Linked DNA regions of Homo sapiens: region 2 is linked to region 1. The links come from fine-mapping of genetic effects on gene expression. Tissue or cell type: tibial nerve. Region 1 holds a variant in brackets; the other region holds the start of a gene. All regions are shown on one strand. Distances are from middle to middle.

The links. PIP is the estimated chance that this variant, and not a neighbour inherited with it, causes the effect.
Region 2: it holds the start of RYR3, and the variant in region 1 is fine-mapped to the expression of RYR3 in tibial nerve (GTEx, PIP above 0.99).

Annotation. Positions count from the first base shown.
Region 1 is chr15:33,499,933-33,502,689 of GRCh38, reverse strand. The region is part of intron 2 of RYR3 (ryanodine receptor 3); the gene reads right to left. Among named protein-coding and RNA genes, the nearest start is that of RYR3, 190 kb to the right of the region's middle. The variant C/A (reference allele first, on the strand shown) is at 1,712.
Region 2 is chr15:33,309,355-33,312,111 of GRCh38, reverse strand. It overlaps RYR3 (ryanodine receptor 3), which reads right to left and starts at 1,145. Exons shown (of 104, transcript NM_001036.6): 1 at 1,016-1,145. The coding sequence starts at 1,066. It overlaps RYR3-DT (RYR3 divergent transcript), which reads left to right and starts at 1,453. Exons shown (of 3, transcript NR_120327.1): 1 at 1,453-1,534. RefSeq lists enhancers at 1-412, 413-924.

The sequences.
Region 1 (2,757 bases):
CTTCACTGTGAGAACATTTTAGATCAGCAAATATTCAAATATTTCATTTACGTAGTGCTTGATATTGGAAAAGATACAAAGAAATACAAAGCAAAACCACTGCCTTTCTGGAGTTTACAATCCCATTTCAATGACACACCATTTTCCTTGAGAATACAGCTTGTGATCACCTGTGTACCAATCCTTTGTTTCCTACATGATATTGGCAGAACATCAATACCATGAGAACAACAGGAATGAGGAATGAGGGCCAGAAACTACCGACAGCCATGCCTAACACTTCAAAACAGGTAAAGCTGTTTCCATGGAGCTCCACTTTAAAAGCTAAACCAAGTCTGTTACTAAGGCTCCGACAACCTCTCTAACTTCAGCATTTAGTTTTAAAATAAAAATAATGGAATTGACCATCTTTAAGTTCCCTTTAATTTCTGAGTGTTTATTCTTCCTCCCCTCCCAACTGCAACATTCTCAAAAATAAGATAATCGGCCTGCTGGACCTGCCTACAATTTTCCTTTATTAAAGTTTTAAGCCAGTAATGGACAATCCTATTCCAAAGGCTACTGGCTCTGGGTGACGTACATTTTCAAGTACTTTTCTACTAAGGATTTGAGGGAGTACTTTTCTACTTAAATACTTTTCTACTCAAGGTCTCTATGCTGAGAAATCCTAAAAACCTAGTCTTAGAATTCTGGCAATACAGGAATTTGCCCAATCCTTTTTTATTAAAACCATTAACTAAGAAGAGATTGTAACAGAGGAGGATTACCGCCTTTATTTTGTGTTGCTCCCTTTGTTTTCAAAGTCTGTTCCCAAAGCAGGTAATTAACTTATTTGTATGGGACTTGAGCAAGCAGGCAGCTGGTGATGCAGGGCAGAGCTTCATGTCCAGGAAATGTTTGTACAGTACATACAGCATTATTACAAATAGCATACAATTATATGATAAAGCATTTCCTTAAGACCTTATACCATAAACATATATTGTCTAACTTAGCCTTCCAAAATATGATGCCATCTCAGGAGATTTTATAGAGATTTTTCTACCACTCTGCCTACCTGAATTTCATGTTCCCAGAACAGGAAGCATAAAAGCCATAGTTTGCTTGTTTCTTCCTCTTCCAATTCATCAGAATGAATGATTTGGAGATTTCCCATTGAAGAATGTCTGCAGTTATGGTTGGCCCTTTAAAGTCTGCTTTAAAGTTTAATTTGGCAAATTAAATGGTCACAACATTAATGCCCACTTTTACAATAACATATTCAGTCTATTCTCTTTAAGACAGAAACCCTCATAGCTCCAAATGCTAAAGATTCTGCCCTTACATGACATCATGTAATTCTAAGTCAGCTTGCTTTCCTTCCTGTGTCTGGTTTGAGACAGGAGACAGGAGCTCTCCTTGTCTCTGCCATCAGCCATTTTGAAGGAGAAGCACTAATAGATAATAGGGACACTAGGCATGCTATGATTATAGCTGTCCTTTCAGTCCAGGTATTGAAAGTCCCCAGGTGCTCACAATTTCATTACTGGTTTGAATGGGTATATTTAAACAGGACAATAGTGTGCATGGAGAGGAAGCCTCTCAAATGGGAGCACTGTACCTGCCACTAGTTTACAGAGTTTCCTGGCAGCTTAGTTTCTGTACCTCTGGTGTGTGGTCCCTGCCTGGACTCTCTGTACTTGGAAATAAGAGCATGCCACTCCAACAGCAC[C/A]CAAAACAATGTGTGGGCAGTGGTAAGGGAGGGAACAGAGCAACTGGAATGTCTGGAGAAAAACAAAACAACGAAAAACTTGTGACATGAATGGAGCACAGAGCCATCTGACCTGCTATGCCAGCTGCCATCCTTAATTAAACTCCAAACTGGCCTGAACTCCCACCTCCACACTCCTGATGAATGAGCAAAGGCCACTCGTCCATTAAAGCTAATTTGTTTGTAGCCATGAGAGTCCCCTAGGAGGCCAGCTCATTGTGTCTGTGCTGTGGAACCTGTGGCCTCAGTCACTCTACCTGGCAGGCACGGGGCAAGTGTTTGATGACTCTCAGCATGGAGAGAAGGGCTCTGTTGACATCTGTTCTGAAATAGCTCCTCATCACTCTCCCCAAGCCCTGCCCTGAACCTAGAGAAGCACTACATTTCCAAATGTCCTACAGGAAACCTTGAGAGGCCAGGGCCCTGGATAAGCCAGGAACTAGGATTCACTTAGCCTCACTATGTGGAAAACAGTAGGAGGCAAGGTCTATATATCCTCCATGCTCCATAAATCTATATAATGGCATATTTTTCTGGGGCTTATTGAATCCTGGCTAGTAGGAATCTGCTGCCCCTGTTTTGTAGTCATTTAGCATTTCTCTATCTGGCAATCCACAACATTCACTTCGCACTGTGCTAGCATACACTAGCCAAGCCCTCAGGGAAATGAGGTAGGGAGTTAATTACACAAAGGAAGACCATCACCTCTCTCCGTTGTACTGTTAACTGCAGTCTGTTTTGGCTTATATCGTTCTTGATGCATTGAGGTTTGTCTGTTTCACCAGACTGTGGGTCCCTTGAAAGAATCTGTGCCTTATTCTATTGTTGGTATCCCAAGTACATAGAATAGTAAGCACCCAACTCAAGTCTTCTTGAACAGATCCTGTGTCCTTCAAGACTATCATCCAGGAGTGTGGTGCTGATTATGGCTGTGGCTGTAGACAGATTGCAATGACTCCTCAAGTCTCCTGCCTGTTATTCAACACGTCTTTCTTCTCCCCGTGGTC
Region 2 (2,757 bases), 190 kb after region 1:
AAACATTATGACATTCACGATAACGTTTAATCCTTATCACCCTGAAACGCTGGTTACATTTTATTTTACACATGAGGAAACTGAGGCTGAGTAGGGCGGATTATGCGACTTGCTCAAGGTCACTTGGCTGAAGTCAGCGCTAGGATGCATCCCCAATGCCCCCACCCCTCCGGGTGGCCGTCCACCCTGAAAGTCTTTGTATTATCTCCTACAGGGCAAGGCTGGTGTGGCTGCAACAGACTTCGCCCCCTCACCCCCAAATCTGGGACGGAGCAGCGCCCTCAGGTGTCAAGGAGGGGACCTGAGTGACGCGGAGCCACTGACTGGGGTTTCCCTGTCCTGCGGGGCTCGCGGGAGCCAGGAGCAGAAGCCACAGCTCTCGAACACACGACAGGCAGTCAGTCAAGTCAGGCTCCAGCAGCAGTTGCCGGCGTGGGGCTTAACACGAGAGGGGCAGCGCTGGGTGAATTCCCCTCCGAGCGATCCCAGGGCTAGGACCAAGCGCCTGCGCCCGCTTCTCCGACCCGGCTCCCCACACTCCCCCCTGCCCCGCTGGCTCCTTCCCGGAGGTTCCCCTGTGCGTGGGGGCGCCCTGGAAGAGGAATGGGGCTGGGGTGGAGTATGGAGGTGTCAGAGGGCCGACCCCGGGGCGAGGGCTTCCAACGCCGATCTTATGGGTCAGGACAACCGCGAACAAACCCCGGCTGAAGTTTGGGCATCAAGGGTTTCAGACCAAGTAGCAAGTTGCCTGGAGAGCGAGCGGTCCTAGGTGGAGGGCCTGGGGCAGGGGTGGCGGTAGGGGAACAAGGGAGAGGCAGGAGATGGTGCCCCTTCCCACGCAGCCCCTCGCGGCCCCGCGGGTAGGTGGCCGGTCCGCCTCTGCAGCCCGCGGGTGCGGAGAAAGCGCCCGGCACCGGGCACCCGGCACCGCGGCGCAGCGCAGCCAGCCCCTCCTCGCCGCGCTCCGCGCTCCTCCCCACCTGCCCACGGCCTCGCCCCCGCCGCGGAGACTCACAGTCCTCAGAAACTGGATCTCGTCCTCGCCTCCTTCTCCCCCTTCGGCCATGGCTCCCGAGGCGTCGGCGGTGCCCCAGCCTCCGGCGCCTCTGCTTCCCCCGGCAGCCGCTCGGCGTGCGCTGACTGCTGCTGCGCTCTTTCTCCTCCTCCTTTTCGTCCTCGTCCTCCACCTCCTCCTCCAGCTCCTGGCTCAGCCTCAGCCTCAGCAGCGCCAAGCTAATCCCCGACCATATAGGGAGCTGGGCTAACACTCCACTGCACTGCAGAGCGCCAACGCCAACCAAGCAGTCCGCCCACCCCTCTCGCCTCTCGCCCCAGCCAAGTGCGCTGCGGCCGCCCGCTCCGTGGAGAGCGCAACGCTGGGCGCGTCGAGCTGGCGGGGGCGGTGCGGGGGCCCTGGGCTGGCGCGGTGGAGCCTCCCCCGCACCGCTGGGTACCGCACCGCACACTCAGCGGAGGCGCGCGCCCCGCGGCGACCGGAGGATGTCCCCTAAACTGCTCCAATTCACAAACAAAGGCCAGTTGCTTAGCTCCAGCGCGCCCAGACTGGGTACCAACCCTCTCGCTTTGCTCGCTTTGCCCGCTTTGCCCACTTTGCCTGTGTGTGTGTGTGTGTGTGTGTGTGTGTGTGTGTGTGTGTGACAGAGATAGAGAGAGAGAGAGAGGAAAGAGAGAGACAGAGACAGAGAGAGAGAGAGAGGAAAGAGAGAGACAGAGACAGAGAGACAGAGAGAGGAAAGAGAGAGAGACAGAGACAGAGAGAGAGAGAGAGAGAGAGAGAGAGATCTGGACTCGAATACCTTGCTAGGACCCGCGTGCATTGTTGGGCAAGGAGAAGACGGTGCAGTGAGGAGCGAGGGTGATTGTCCACTTACAACAAAGTTTGCAACTCCCTGGATAGTCCTTTCTACACCTTAAGAGAACCCCTTCCCCTCTTCAAAATTGGTAAGTACACTTTACCAAACCCCTGGATTGTCCAGGGTTGCTGTGACTTCTGTACCCCAGGGAGCTTCTGGGGGATCCTGTGCCACCCTCAATTTGGAAGTCAGGTGGCATCACAACCCTTCCTCTCTGCCCACCCCTAACCTTATTCTGCATTTAGAGTTCCAGCCCTGTGGACTCTAAAGGGAGTAGAGAGTAGTTACAGGAGGCTCCCTTCCAGGTCCTGGAAGGCTCCTACATCCCACCCAGCCTTAGGTCCTTTTCCATGGTTGGGGATTGCCAGATTGGTCCTTGCCTTGACTGACGGTGCAGGGTGCCCCCTTCTGTTTGATGGCCGAGAAGCTCCAAGGCAAGAGACTGTTCAAGGCAAAAGGCACCAGAGATGTAGATTTAGGAGGAAGTGCAACTGGGAAGGTGGTAATTCTGGGCTGATGATGGTGGAAGACACTGGAAACCCCAAGCCATTTCACAGCTTCATATACCGCCTCCTTGTGGACGACATCTATCTCTTGATGCTACCTTAAGATCTCTTTCCTGAGCTTCCGTCCCATATGTTCTGATGAACATCAGAAATGCAAAGAAAAATGTTTTTTTCTTGTATTGTACTCAAACTGCTACCTTCTAGGCTTCAGCTTGGGCCTTGTGCCTCTTCTGAAACCCGCCTAGAATAAGTCAAACCATCTGTACATTGTGGCCCTTCACCTCTTAGAAGGCATCTGCCATGCTTGCCTCTATGGCCCACCATCCACTCTTTTCTTCTCCTGGCTCAAGGTTCTTCTTAGCCCCAACTTTCCCTGT